Homo sapiens: one gene and its partner. The gene in region 1 interacts genetically with each later gene. Each region holds a gene or a part of one and is shown on either strand. Other genes may lie near its edges.

The links.
Region 2: of SATB2 (region 1) and PALLD, changing one enhances a phenotype caused by changing the other (phenotypic enhancement), as found in Homo sapiens cells (one study listed by BioGRID).

What each region holds. Positions count from the first base shown.
Region 1 is NC_000002.12:199,454,439-199,462,456, reverse strand, and holds the start of SATB2 (DNA-binding protein SATB2), read left to right. Parts: upstream 1-4,517; 5' UTR 4,518-5,118; intron 5,119-6,360; 5' UTR 6,361-6,419; coding exon 6,420-6,588; intron 6,589-8,018. UniProt on the Homo sapiens protein: Binds to DNA, at nuclear matrix- or scaffold-associated regions. Thought to recognize the sugar-phosphate structure of double-stranded DNA.
Region 2 is NC_000004.12:168,492,843-168,500,628, forward strand, and holds the start of PALLD (palladin), read left to right. Parts: upstream 1-4,209; 5' UTR 4,210-4,352; intron 4,353-7,786. UniProt on the Homo sapiens protein: Cytoskeletal protein required for organization of normal actin cytoskeleton. Roles in establishing cell morphology, motility, cell adhesion and cell-extracellular matrix interactions in a variety of cell types.

The DNA.
Region 1 (8,018 bases):
TCCCCCACTGGGGTATTCTGGCCCCTGGCTCTTGTCCTCTTGGCGCATCTGATTTCCAGTCTAAGCCCCTCGCGGTTATGCCGTCCGAGAAAGTGTTGGTCGCCAACTCTCCACGGACAGTCCGCGGCGGAAATTGGCTTCAGAGCTGGCGTGGGCTTCATTTGAAAGAAATGATTCCCTCCCGCCCTCCTCCCGCCCCCAGGAGGGCAAGCTCCAGGGGAAGAGGCAGGCCCGCTTGGGTTCCTAGAAGCCGTCGAAAGCTTTTGACGCGGGCGATTCCCATAGTTTTCCCTGCGTGTTCCAGGGTTGAGGGAAAACGCGGCGCAACTTTCCAGGGCTCTTTAAAAGGCAGGGTCTCTCTGCCTGGGTGACCGAACTTGAAAGCCATGGACCTTGGGGATGGATGCCGGGCCCTCAGAGCCCGGGATGGCCCAGGCGAGAGCCGAAGTCCCGCGCCCGGCACCCTGCACCCTCCACCCAGGCGCCCAGGCCTACGCTGTCCGGAGCGGGCCTCTAGGAAGGAAGGTTGACCAGGGTCGAAAGCACGCACAACAAAAACTTGGTGTCGACAAAGAGAAATCAAGAAACGTCATTAGAGTGCAGGCCATAAAAGAAGGCCTGACAGAGAGAAAAGGAGAGAAGATGGAAATAAGAAAAACCATACACCTTTAACACTAGCATATAAAGATCTATTGATTTTTAAAATAACAAATCCGTGTTTGTGAAAAACAGGCGGCCTTTTACTAAATTACATAAGGAAAACTTGGGAGGTGGGTGAAGAAAAGGGGAAAAGTCTGAGCAGATTCCCGACAAAAACGTCAGTTAGAAGGAAACTGAGGGATAAAAATGTCCCCCAGATGTGAACTCCATGTTTTGAGCATGGAAGCAAACTATCTCCTAATGCACAAAATGGGTTTTAGATAAAAGTATTTTTAAAAATCAAACGTAATTAAAACAACTCTTTTCTCGTGATTTTGTTTTAAAAAGTTTGGAAATAAACCTTTTGAGGGATACAAAACGAAACCAAACAAATATTCTTGAATCATCAGCAAATTTATTCATTTACTGTTTTAAACAATACAAAATTCTAGCGAAAGGTAAAACTATTAAAATATATCTTATTGTCGAAATTAAACCTGCTGGAAATAATCGCTTCAGTTGAAATAAGGTCAATACAAAAATTGTGCAGTAAAAAGCGTATGTAATTTGAAACAAAAAAGGCCTTTATTAGAGACAAAACTCGAGAGGACAAAAACCCACACCGGACATAGATCACAAAACTTCCTAGAACTCTCCTTTAAATCGGAAGAAATTTGTAAAATGTGATATGAAATACAACTCTACAAACATCCAAAATACATTTCTGGTCATAATTAATCGTATTTGACATTTTCCTCTAAGTTTAATGCAACTTTAAATAATTTAGGCTTTTTCCTAACATGATAGATTTTTTTCAGTATCAGAAATGGACAAGAGGAAACTCCAGTAAAGAGAAAAGCAATGAATTTAAAAGGGTGCAGAATCTGAAAACAAACTAACCACAATGTACATTTAATTGTACTTAATTGTATATTTCATTTAAATAGTCCTTCTCAGGGGTTTAATAATTTAGAATCAATAGTTCCCTTCAAAACATAATAAAATATTTACACTTTATAAAATATTAACCGATTAACAATACAGCCGTGTTGTTTATAAGAGTGTAACTGAAGTCCTGCAAATCATGCTGTTGACACAAGCCTGTGAGGTTAGCGAAGTGATCCTTAGCAAAATGTAAATGAAGATCTTCAGACAGTGGTGTTTATAAAATAGCTCATTAATGACTTAGGATTGAATCGCTCCAACCATTCGCATCATCAGATATAATAATAGTGACGAATCAGACAGGAAAGATCCTGGCTAAACCATTTGCATTTTTTTCCAGAAGTACTGAACTCCTAATATCACCAATTCTTCTAAGTTCCTGGACATTGATCCGGAGGAGGATTCGCAGTTCAACATCAAGGTAAGGAAGGATACAGCATTGTTATCGTTGTTGAGATATTAGTAAGAAATACGCCTTTCCCCATGTTGTAAACGGGCTAAGTTTGACAGTGGTAGTTGGCTTTTGCAACACCCCCTTCCCATTTCGACATATTACAGATTGAAGAAAAAGTTTGTTGCTCAAAACTTACAGTTTGTTTCTTTGCAGCCCCAAACCTTTTAGCTACCACCACGGGTTGATTTACTAGACCCATTTTTGCTCTCACCGACTTCGAACTGTGCATTTTCTCCCACTCTTTTGACTGGGGGTGGTATGCGGGGGGAGGATGGGGCTTGGTGAAGAAAACCAGGGAAAGGCAAACGCTGCCTAAAACTCCCAGGGTGGCTCCCCTAAGAATTGCTATCCTGCTTGTTTCTTTTCTCGGCTGGGATCCGACCGACTCCCAGGTCGCCTCGGACTTCTTTGGAACTTGGTGGGCGGCGCCTAGGTGCGGGGTTCGTGGTGATCTGGGCGCCGACACTTAGGCCGGGGGCAGGTTTCCTTCCTGGGACCCTTTCTCTTCCAGAGGCTCTCAAGCCTCTAAGCCCGTGCGCATGCCGCCTACCAGGTAGATGCGGCGAGGGCGAGTGGAAGGCAGCCTTGTCCCGGGCACGATCGGCGGACTCAGCTTTTCGCAGTCTCTGCTCCCAGCAGGGATTTACAGAACTGCTCCCGAGAGCGTTTCCCGAAACCGAACTTAGTTTGGCCCTCTGGCGCCGCCGTACAGTCAACGCTTCTTAAGGGGGATCGGTGGCTCTTGCTGCGGGAGATGTGGGAGAGCCCTCGGGGTCCTGGGGATTAGGAGGGAGAGTCAACGTGTGCGGGAGGGACATGAGGTGCAACCAGTTGAGGGGGGATTCTCTGGCCTCAGGGCCGGCGGGGATGCGTCCACATTTTCTCGCCTAAGGTCCTAGCGGCTAATGTCCGCCGACGCCCCGGGTATCTCGCGGGGGCTGCGGCCCCTGCCCACGTGCTTTTCCTTAAGGAGGCAGCGCGCCCAAGCGGAATCGCAGGGACAAAAGCGCGGCCAGAGGCCAGCCTGCTCGGCTAGTGCCCGCGCCACCTTAAATGAGCACCGCGGCCGGAGTCGGGCTGCCGGCGGCCGCGGCCGCGGGAGTCGGCAAAAGTTTGTGGCTCTGTTACGCCTTCGCGGGACCTGCTGGGGACGCTCCTGTGCGGCCTCCCCCCGGGCGGGGAGGCCGGGTCCTCAGGGCACAGCTCTGTTGGCGCCAGCAGCCCTGGGCTCGAGCAGCTTGGGGTCCCCAGGAGCCCCAGTCCTGTAGCCCGAGGACAGGCAGCCCCACCGCCCTCGCCGCCACCGCGTCACGGGCTCCAGGCGGCCCGGTTTGCACCGCTCGCGATGTCGCCGGAGCGGCGAGCGCTCCAGCGATGCCATCCAGGGATGCACCCCGCTCTGCATCCACCACGCAACCCCCATTCCTGTGCCACCCACAGCCCGGCGGGCAGTGGCCGTGCTCCTGGCATTCGGGACACCCCGACTATTGTTCCGGACTCGCGGCCGTGCCAGCTTTGAAGGAGAAGCGGCCTTCCCTGCGCGCGCGGCGGCACGAAGCGCGGCGGGCCGGGACGTTCGGCTCGGCGCGGAGGGGGAGCTCGCAGGCACCGGGAAAAGTTGCTCGGAGGGGCGGAGGCGGTGGGTGGTGGGCGGAGGCGGTGGGTGGGGGAGGCGATCGCCCTCCTATCTCCAAAGTCGAAAGTACTCCGCGCAGTTAACAGAGCTGGGAGCCGAGGCAGCCGCGGTCGCCTCTTGCGCGTCGGTCTGCGTCTCCGCCGGCAGACGCGGCACCCAGCGACTGCCTTGTCGCCGCCGCCTCCGCGCCGGGACGAGTGCGCCTAGGGGCTGGGCGAGGCGGCCGCGCCCTGGACCCGCCACAAGGAGGAGGACCAGACCCTGGGCCCCGGTGCCCGCCTGCGCCCAGACGCACCCACCCGCTGGCCGCGGCCACCGCCTCGCGCCGCACTCGGTTCTCTGCCATCGGTCCTTCGCCGCCTCGTGCATGAGGTCCTCGTCACCCCGCTCCGACCGCCGACTCTCCCCTTCCTCTTCCCTCCTCCCTGCCTCCCACCCGCCCCTCGCCTGTCCCTCTGCCTCCTTCGCAGCCCCGCCGCCGTTGGGTCGCCGTGCTCACAGCGATTGATTGATTGATGTTTAATTTCCTGCCAGGCGGGGCCCCCCTCCCCCCGCAACCTCCCCAGCCCTCCTCCCCGCCCCCCACTCCCCTCTTTTCTTGCGGTGGACCAGTCTGGCTTGGGTTTAGATCCATCCCCCCCACCCCCATCCCGAAATAATCCAGAGACTTCCCCTACCCCCACCCCAAATTATTATTTTGAAGGCGCTAGATCTGGGGACCGAAAGGGGGAGGGGGAGAAATCGGAAACCGAGGACAACCCAAAAGGACTCACTTTGCCTGATGACTCAACGCAACTAATAATCATCTCCCTCTCAGTGTGTCTCTCTCTGCGGCTTGTCAGTGAGTCCGGCTCTGGCTGCTGGCAGAGGCGGCCGAGAGGGGAGAGGCTGGAGGTGACAGCTTGGGCGGCCGCCGCGTTTCCTCCCGCGCGCGGTCCCGGGTCCCTGCGTCTTCTCGGCTCTTGGTGTTACCGGTCCCACCGCTCTGGCCGCGCCTCCTCGCGAGCTAGCCGCCCTGCGAACCAGCAGCCCCGGCTCGCCGCCGCCGCCGCCGCCTCCGGGTTCTCAGCCCTTTCTCTCCAGAACGGGTCTCCTTCCCGAAGGTGTGAAAAGGCTCTTTCAGCCTCCTTCTCTTCCCCCCTCCTCCGCCGTCCCCTCCCCCGCTCGCTCGGGTGTCCCTTTGGAGGAGTCCTTTCCCTCTCCTCCTCCTCCCCCTCCTCCCTCCCCCCATCATCATCATAACAACCATCTCCGCACCAGAAGAAGACACCCTGACCCAGGACCTTAAACATTAGGACCTGGGGAAGAGGGAAGGGGAAGGAGTAAAGAGGAAGACTAGGAGAACACTGCAAAGCCAAGCACCAGAAACTTTCCACCCTGGATTCTCTACTTTTGCTCCATGGACAGAGCCCCAGTCAGCCAAGTTTCAGACAGACCGTGAGCAGTAAGTACGCAGGGCGAGGGCTCCCGCGCCGCGCTCGGGAGTTCGGGGAAGCCCAGGGCCAACGAAGTCCCCTCCCCGCCGCTCTCGGCCTCTCGGACCGCGAAGTCGGGGAATGCAGGCGGAAGCCTCGCCCTCAGCCCTCCTGCTCCGTGTCTTCATCTCGCATCCTTCCTTTCACCTCCCCCTGCCACCCCCACCTTGTCTCCTTGACCCGTGGCGCCGACACTGCTCGCGCGGCCAGAGCGCCCACGAGGATTCCCAGCGCGCACGCAGTACGGTGCCGGGGTCTTGCTTCTTGCGGGTGTCAGTGACAACGCGAGCGCCGTTTCATCAGGTGTTTCCCCTCCTTCCCCGCCCCCCCCCACCCCCCCAATCCAGGGGTGTCGAGACCTGCGGCTTCCGTGGGGAGCGCACTGCCAACCTAGTGACCCAGAGGAAAACTTTCTGGAGCGATGTTAAAATTGGGGCGGATGAAGGCTGCTCTTGCACTAAGAATTCAAATGCTTTTTGCTTTTGTGTTTTATATTGAAGAGCTTTAAAAAAGCACTGGGGATCAGATGAAGATAAGAACGCTCCAAAATAATAACGATTGTAGCGCCCGCCTTTGTGATGGAGGTTATTCTGATAAATACCTCCAAGTGTTTTCGGATGCTTATTAATGTGGAATTAGGGTTGATTTTATGCAGGTGTGTGCTTATCTCAGGACTTGCTCCGTATAGGTAAAAAGCGGGTATTCAAGGGGTTCTTTCGCCCGGCCTTTGGCTCCTGCCTGGCCATTCACAGCGCATTTACCGGGTGGTTAATTCGGTTATGGACTTGCGCACACCCCCAACTCCCTTCCCATGTGGGTGGAACGTCTTTTTCTGAAGTTCACTTATTCCGCAACCCTGACCCCGGGACGGGCTAGGCTGTAGCACCCAGGAACGGTTTATGCCAACCCCGTCCCAATGAATGGACCACTTCTAGGCGCCCCTGGGTGCCAACCCCGGCCGCGACCCCGAGGGCTGACTTCTGGGGAGCTGCGACTGGGCAGAGTCGCCGAACCGAGGCGCTGGGCTTCCTGGGGGCCGCCCAGTGTAAGGTTGGGACCGGCTTCCCGGCTCGGGCCCCTCGGGCAGCGTGGGAGGAAGTTTGTGTGGCTGTGGTGCAGCGCTCTGCCACTGGCCTGAACGTCTATCACGTGTATGAGCGGTTTTCCCTCTTTTTTCTCCCTCCCCCTTCCTCCCCCCACCCCCTCCCTAGGTCCCTGTGCGTTTTATTGCGACCTGCCGGTGGGAACTTTGTCTCCGAGTCGGAGCAGCATGGAGCGGCGGAGCGAGAGCCCGTGTCTGCGGGACAGCCCCGACCGGCGGAGCGGCAGCCCGGACGTCAAGGGGCCTCCCCCAGTGAAGGTGGCCCGGCTGGAGCAGAACGGCAGCCCCATGGGAGCCCGCGGGAGGCCCAACGGCGCCGTGGCCAAGGCCGTGGGAGGTAACAGCCCGGAGCAGGGAGGCGCGCAGCCCGCGGCCCAGTGATAATGGCCCGGGTGTCAGGGTTCAGGTTGATTAGGCGCTGTCGCGGTGTAGGATTACAGGAAGTGAATTCCAGGTTGCCAAATAATGCCCCCGTCGCCTCTCATCTGCAACTGGTAGCTTCATCTCCAGTTAAAACAAGAAAGTGGTTTTACCCAGAGGGTGGCATTTTTTGGGCATTTTGCCACTGTGTGCTGAGGTGTTGGCAGGTTTATGTCACAGCCAGCTAACTGTTTCTAGATTTTCCTAGAGAGCTTTTTAGTGATTTAACTCTTTTGCCTTGCCTCGGAGTGTCTGTTGTAGGGATGAAGTTCACGTGCGTTCGCTTTTAGGGAATAAAATAGTCATTAATGCTCAGGCGAGTACAGGAACAAGGAGAGTTGATGTTACTTTGTAGTGAGGACAGTGCTTCAAGACAGATGAATGACAACTGGGAATATTTCCTGCCACGTGAAATGTGGGAAATAAAGAATCACCATGAATCCATCAGGCCCTTAGAAGCTTAAATGCTGCTGTTGTCTATAAAGTTTAGTCATATGCATTCGTAACTTTATTATGAATTATAGGAGAACAGATAAAAATAGCAAAGTAGCCTTATCAACTAGATGTAGTTTCCCCTCCAAAGAATTTATTAATAATTTTATTTAAAGAAAATCTTTTGTAGTTTTTACTACTTAAGCAACTACTTTCTTTTAAAGTGGTCAGGAAAAGCAATCATACAAAATAAAGATATGGGAGAAATTTAAACATTGAAATATTTTGGAGTTTGTATGCCATTTGCTTAGTTGTCTTTTACATGTAAAATCCACAATTCCACATGGCATGCAGGTTTTCTGTGTGTTTGGCATAAATCACTAGTTTAATTTTTTTTGCCTCTAACGTTTTTTCTCTAATAATTTCAACAGTAGCCCATTTAATATTCAATATATTAACTTGTCTTAAATGATATAAAACCTTGGCAAACCTTAATGATAAGCTCCCACCCCCTTGTTGTAAGTGTCTATTGTGTGTATTTCAAAATAGTTACTTACATCTAAAAATGTTCATTCCTCCTTAAAGAGTTGAACACATACGTTTTATAAAATCGTATTTTTTTCTTTTTACTTATTTTGCTATTTCTATTTCTTCATGGTAAATACTTAGGATGGTTTGTCTCAGTCTTTCATATTAATCGTCTCACTTGAGAAGTATTCATCCTTTCAATGTTGTGAGTTAAAAAGTTTGGTGATGGATTCTGGCTTGTTTATCTCCCCTTTTTGGGACTTGAAAATATACTTTATTGAAGCAAAAGAAAACAGTTCTGTGACCCACTTTTTAAAAGAGAGGTTTATTAATTTGTTGTCCTGATACTGGAGCAAATAATGTCAGACTTTTGGCATAATCAGTTAG
Region 2 (7,786 bases), on another chromosome or scaffold:
TTTTCTCACATGCTCCGTGATCCTTGTTTCCTGGTGGTTGACGCTGGGAATGAAGAGAGGAATAAAAGTGAAAAGGGAGTAAGTAGACTTGTTTCTTGAAACTTAGGATTTTCAAACTTCCTGGATCGTAAGAAAAAGAAAACGTCCAAGGGGGATGAATGAGCAAGTCTGCTGCATTCCTTTGCACACCCCTTTCATCAAGGAAACTTTGAATACCTTTACTTTTTCTATTGGCTGCCCAAGAGTTTGTATCTCCTAAAACAAAGTTTGTAAACCAGTATCCTCGATTGACCTGAACCTGGGAGGCAGACTGATAGATAATCTCAAAACAGAGTGATCTACAGCCTGGAAATTCTGGTGAAGAAGAAAAATCAGTGTATGAGAGAGCTAGAGGAAGAAAGTTTACAGTCAAATAACATGTTTGAACGTGCAGTTGTGAAAACAGAGCATGCCCCAATGTGGCTATAGGACTGATGGGTTAAAGGGAATAGAGGTGTGGTAGCCAACTGCCAAGATGACCACCAATGCATTGTCTTGCCAACTGGTTTTTACGCCTCTATGCAGTCTCCTCCCACAGTGGATACTGCCAATTTGTATAACTAAAGGATACTGCGGGAAAGACGAAATATGACCTCCAAGGCTGGATCATAAAAGATATAATGGGGCCGGGCGCGGTGGCTCACACCTGTAATCCCAAAACTATGGGAGGCTGAGGTGGGTGGATCACCTGAGGTCAGGAGTTTGTGACCAGCCTGGCCAACATGGTGAAACCCCATCTCTACTAAAAATACAAAAAAATATCTGGGCGTGGTGGTGGGCACCTGTAATCCCAGCTACTTGGGAGGCTGAGGCAGGAGAATCACTTGAACCCAGGAGGTGGAGGTTGCAGTGAGCTGAGGTCATGCCACTGCACTCCAGCAACAAGAGCAAAACTCCACTTTAAAAAAAAAGACATTGTGGCACAATCCAGCTGCCATGAAGCTAGGAAACTCAGGCAGTGACACAGAGAAGTCAACAGGGTTCCAGCCAATAACAGGACTAACTTTCCAGGCACGTGAGTGAGCTGCCTTGGAAGCAGATTTTCCAGCCCCAGCCATGCTTCCACCTGAAAGAAGCTGGGGCAACATCTTCAGTACTATCTCATGATACCCTGATCTGGAATTACCCAGCTAAGACTAATGGATTCCTGACACATAGAAACTGTGTGAAATAACAAATATATATTGTTTTAAGACATTAATTTTTGCAGTAATTTGTTATGAAGCAGTAGATAAGTTATATCTGATTTTGGAGGTGGAGGAGGTCTGTTTGTGTGATCTGTAAGAGGAACAGAGATGAAGATTCATAGAGAAAAGCAGGTCCAAAACCAATATGCCAACATATAGAATAGACAAATGGGTGCTGAGTCACCCAGAATAATGGCAGGGTGTGGAGTGAAGAAGAGAACCAAGAGCCCAACTAGATCCAAAGTCTTAATTTTAAAAAGTGGGATGGAGGATGGTTGATGCAAATATAAGTGCTTCAAAAGAGCAGGAATTTCTATAAGAAGAAGTAATCATTTGAAAGCTGAACTGGAGCCCCATGAAGGAGCCACAGACTCCCTTTCCCAACCTTCGTGCACACAGAAATGGGCTCTGGTGGAAAATATGAAAGTGCATGAGAAATGATATTACTGTCCACACACTAATCTCATCCTTAATATCAACTGGACCTTGCTATACTAACTTAAGAGTGTTGATCAAACTTTCTAAATTTTTTTGATGCCAATTTTCTAAGGAAAAGAACTTCTTATAAGATTTTTAAAACAAGCTTGGTTTGCTGCACTATTTGCAATACACACACAAAAAGGTCACATTTCTGTGTCCTTTTGAGTAAAGTCATATCCATCTTTGAAGCCTCTCTCAGGACCACAAGCTGTTTTTTTTTCTTTTTTCTTCTTATGGCTTCATCACTTCACTGGTGTTATACCAGGATTTAGGAACCAAGCAATCCAAAGAAATGTGGGAGAGGCCTCGTCTGGCCAGTAGTCCAACATGATTGCCTCTGGAATTCACCATGAGACTCACAGTTCACCAGAAGGCAGAGGCAAAAATCAGAGTTGCCAATTAAAATTATTTCTAAAGATGGGTTCACTGCTTCCTATTCCCAAGCCTTTCTGAGACTCCATGGGGTGAATCACTTGCTTCTTTTCTGTATCTCCTCCTGCAGGCATTTAAGCTTTGTAATTTAGTTACATGCATACTTATATTTATCTCTTTCCAACAATTTTGTTCATTTCTGATATCTTCTATTGTCTTCCCTCCCAATTTCTGCCCTTTTCAGTTTTTACTATTATCTTGTGGTTTTAGGAAAAAGCAGATATAAATATGTGTTTAAGCAATGCTATGGTTTGAAGGTTTTTGTCCCCTTCAAAATTTTTGTTGATTCCTAATCCCCTATGCAACAGTATCAGGAGGTGTAACGTTTAGAAGGTGATTCAGGAGGACTCCTCATGAATGGGATTTGATGCCCTTAGGGCTTGATGGAGGAAGTTTGACCCCCTCTTGCCCTTCCACCTTCTGCCATGTGAGGACACAGTGCTCAAGGCATCACTGTGGAAGCAGAGACAGGAACTTCACCAGACAACAAACCTGCTGGCACCTTGATCTTAGACTTCCCAGCCTCCAGAACTATGAGAAATCAATTTCTGTTCTTTGTAAATTACCCAGTCTGTGGCATTTTGTTATAATGACACAAACTAAGACAATCAATCAGAGTTATATTTCCTTGTAAGTATAAATTTTATTTTTTTATTTTTATTTTTATTTTTTTTAAGAAGGAGTCTCGCTCTGTCACCCAGGCTGGAGTGCAGTGATGGGATCTCGGCTCACTGCAAGCTCCGCCTCCCGGGTTCACACCATTCTCCTGCCTCAGCCTCCCAAGTGGCTGGGACTACAGGCACCCGCCACCACGCCCAGCTAATTTTTTGTATTTTTAGTAGAGAGGGGGTTTCACTGTGTTAGCCAGGATGGTCTCAATCTCCTGACCTCATGATCCACCCACCTCGGCCTCCCAAAGTACTGCAATTACAGGCATAAGCCACCACGCCCAGCCGTAAGTATAAATTTTAAAATCACTTCTTAATTAATATAATAGATGAAATGACCCACAGAAGTATCCACTCACAGAAAGGACCATTTCTAAAGGACCAGTTTGGCCTATAAAGAAAATACAATAGCAGACCTTCACAAATTTTCTAACATCAGAAAAGAAAAAATATTTAGATATTAAACTGAATCAAATGTGATGGTCTTACCCAGACAAAGGAAGACTCAGCACCCCATTTCCAAGTTAACTGGGAGCTTTTGTGTTGCTCTTTTTGCCCCCCTTATATTTGATTCTGCTACCTGACCTTTAAACAGAAAAGCTTTCTCTTCTTGCTATCTATGTTTGTTATTTAAAAGATCAAAATATTAAACTCTTGCTATATCTATTTGTCATTTGAAAGATCAAAATATTAAATGATTGTGAAACATTTTTTGCAACTGTAAGAGGGTTGATACTTTTCCTGAATATTATTCATTCAACATTCATTTATTTCTTTGACAAATATTTAAGAGATGCTCATGATGTCCTAGGCATTGAGCTAAGAACTCAATGTTGCAATGTGGATAAGATCCAGTCCCTGTGTGTTCATACTTATTTAATACTATTATAGACAAGGCCTTTAATACATACCATAGTCATATATCAATTTTTAATTAGCAATATGAAATAAGAGAACAATGGGACTTTCCACTCAATTTGACAGGTGGCTAAATTTTCAGTTACTGAATTTACTATTTTAGGGTAATCTAGCACATGACCAAAATTTAAATGCACAGAACAGAAGATCAGAGTAAGAAGAGCTTCCATTTGGATTATCACTTTTTCTACTTGGAGTCACATACTGTACTTTAAATTGATTAAGAACATGTTAAAGGTCCAGGTGGTGATTTCCAGCTACAAGTCCAAAGTATAGAAGAATGTGTTTAAATCCTACGTTTATCAGATCCATAAATATAGTTCCTTCTATGTTAAGTGGCTTTATTTCTAAGAACCCAGCCCTCGGTCCTGGGGGTGCTTCCCAGCCCGCTGCTGGAATTCCTGATCGTGGCAGTCTGCTGAAACATGAGCTCAGTTACCAAATATAGCTGAGTGGAGTAAGAGGACAGATGAGAGTCTGAGGCCACAGTTGCCTCAAAGTGACCACGGACCAGGCAGTCTCTAATGAATAGGCAAGGCCACAACCTCCATTCTCCCAGAAAAGAAGAAATGCTCATCTGAAATTCATCACCTCTCTGGAGTCTTCAAACTGACCAAGCATTGAAAAGGTCTGTAAGGTGTATCTTAATATACTAACTAGTAGGGCAACATTTTAAGGACTTAAAAAAAAAAAAACTAAAAATACAAAAGTTTTTCTGAAGATATGATACTATTTACAAGATACCTTAATTATTCTTTTGCTTGGAGAGGAAACGTAATGAGAATGTTACGGTTTTGCCAAAAACAGATAATACGTAAGATTTGCCTGCCCACTTCATCTCTGCCTTTGCTGTCAGAGAATTACACTTTCTGTTATAAGCTTAAGCATGCTAAGATGGTGCTATCAATTCCAAAAGGATTAAATGTATTTATGGAGCCAGCTTTTGTCAAGATCGTGTATGTGTTATGTTTCACAGAAAAGGAAAACGCAGCTTTCTAGACCCTCACCCATATTTAAGCTAGATAAGTGATGATGGCTTAAAGTGATAGACCTTAGATTTCAGTAACATTATAAATTGTTAATTACACTTTCAAAAGATTCTAAAAGTAACTCACTGGACATAATTAAATGAGTTGGGATAGTAACAGCAGGTATTTTAAATTATATTCATGCATAAAATTTACATACATATTTTTAATAAGATAACGCTTACTAAGGGAAACCACAGTGCAATCTCGAGTCCAGTCAAGTTTAAACATCACAGAATAATTTTTATCATGTTGTTTTAAGTTGCACATGAAATTGTCTTGAATCCAATATAGGAGGTTGACATAAAATGATTTCAGGCTCATATTACTTATTAACATTTGCTAAAAATACTAATTGCCTTCTAGTATGAATAATGTGGTGACATATAAAGCCATTTCTTGGCAATATAAAACTATTACAAATCTATTCAATCACATATATGCAGAAATTAAATCCTCATTTCATGATAAATGTGCCTTCCAATGTTTTTTCTCACAGAAAGAACTTGAATACTCACCTCAATTATTCAGATTTTTTTTTCAGATTTTTAAAATCAAAGTCTCTTTGACAAGTTATTGCTAACAGCAGAAAAGGCCGATGAGGTTTATCTGGCCACTAACTGCCCTGTAAATACATGATTACACATTCCTAGAATATAAATTAGTCCTCTGGCATCCTAGAATCTGGTATGGATTAGGGTCTGTATCCCAGGGGTTCTGTGTCAGCTCTTCCTCTGGGTTTCTCTGTTATTGCTAGAGCTGAATATTAAAACTGGCCTTATAGCATATTTCACAATAGAATGAGGATCTGGATTGCACTGGACAAGTACAATCACTTTGACCTCCTTACCTCATTTTTTAAAAATGTAGAGGGCAATCATTATTCAGGTTTAAAAATAAATATGACAAGTTCTTTAAGAGATACCAAGTGGAATCTGCAAGGCCCAGACAAGAGCTCCACTTCTTAAACAATATGTGTGTGGAGGCTGTCAAAGGGTATTGCAATTACTGAGCTCCAGTTAGAAATTCAGGCCATCTAGAGTTAATGACTGTGTCCCGGTGAAATTACAGCAAAGAAAACAAAGATTGAACAAAGTATCTTCGACTAAAATTTCTAACTGTTAAATCATATTAGAGAATATAGAAGCAAATTTGGTAAATAGGTTTTGAATTTAAGTGAGAAGAATAAAGCCCTGAATTGGATAATGGTAATGGAAATGGATAATTCAGAAGTAAAATCTAAATATTTGCAATGGACTCAGTATGGTGAATAAAGTTGATAAGATGAACAGGACATGGGATAACTTCAAAAACTCTGTAAAGTATCTTATTTGGCTGTTTCTGCATTAAATGAGCTATTAGATTATGTCCTTGAAATTGAGATTAAATAAGCTGTTTAAAGAGATATTTAAAACTGTAGGATAAATATATCTGCCTGCATTGACAATTTAATAATTAGAAAGGAAAATAATCCATGTGTATTTATTAAGAAATAAATTATAAAATTGTAGTGCATTTTCTGCATCAAACATAAAATTTCATAAAATTTTCGTGTTTGACTTTTGCCCTAAAGGACCCTTTGTAGCAAAAAAAAAAAAAAAAAAAAAAAAAAGGAAGGAAGAAAGAAAGGGAGACGGGGAAGAAGGAAGGGAGAAGGGAGGGAGGAAGGGAGGGAGGATGGGAGGGAGGATGGGAGGGAGGATGGGAGGGAGGAAGGGAGGGAGACATGGAAGAAGGGGGAAGGGAGGCAGAAGGGAGGGAGGGGGGAGGGAGGAAGGGAGGGACTTTATTGATTTAGTCTAGGGGGGTTGCCTGTGATTCTGAAGCATGAAAATTAAGTGTTAAAGCTTTTCTAACTTTGGTTTTCATAGTTTAGGTTTTATTAAAAGATATTTCAATATCTAATATTTGTATCAATGGTTTGCATTACTTTTTTAGTAATTGCTTAAATATGAAAATAAAACTGCTAAACCTAAAATTAAAAATCACTTATAACTTTTTTTCAAAAATTACAAAATAAGCAACAAAAGATCCCCCTGCATGTCCCACCTTTCAACTCCTACCCCTGCCTAAATCCCCCCACAGAGGTCAGTGTTGATTGTTTGGTGTATGTTATTCCAACCATTTTCATATATTTATTCCTATCTATGTATACATTTTTAAATGACTATGGGAATTTAGCTATTCCACCTGGACTCTCTAAAGAATCTGCTGAATGTGGTACATGGTATTAAGTGATCCTTACTGCCTGTCAATGTTTTTCTAACATCAAACTTTTTCTTTCAAAATTGTAGCAGTTCTTCATCGACTCAAAGTATTTCACAAACAGACTTCAAAAGTTTTCCCCTTATCTAAATTTTTAAAGTAATTTCCTATAATATCTCCAATGAGAGAAGAAAACTTTGCAGTTAAATGCAGGCTTCCACCCTGAGTCTGCCACTTTCTGATGGCTCAGGTTGGGCCAAATAATTGAAACTTTTTCTGCTGCAGTTGTGGGTAATACAAACAATAAAATAGAAAAATAACATCTACTACATGGATTGTTCTGAGGATCAAACTGTTCACTTTTGAAAGCAGGTAACTTCCAAGCTGTTATGTAGGAACAACTTGCATTGTCACTGAATTCTTTCTACTTACTAGACTCTGCTCTTTCTCATGTATATTCCTTGTCTTCCCCAAGTTCCTCCACGTCAAAGAAATCTGTTGTAATTTCAACAGTCAATAGTGCCTTGATTCATGGGGATCATGCCAGGGGGTGGTCCCATAAGTCTTGTTTGTTTGTTTTTTGAGTCAGGGTCTCACTCTTTTGCCCAAGCTGGAATGCAGTGACCTGATCATCGCTCACTGCAGCCTAGAACTCTTGGACTCAGACAATCCTCCCACCTCAGCCTCTGGAGTAGCTGGGGCTACAGGCACACACCATCACACTCAGCTAAGTTTTTGGGTTTTTTTTTGTATTTTTGTAGAGATGAAATCTAACTATGTTGCCCAGGCTGGTATTGAACTCCTGGGCTCAAGCGATCTTCCTGCCTCA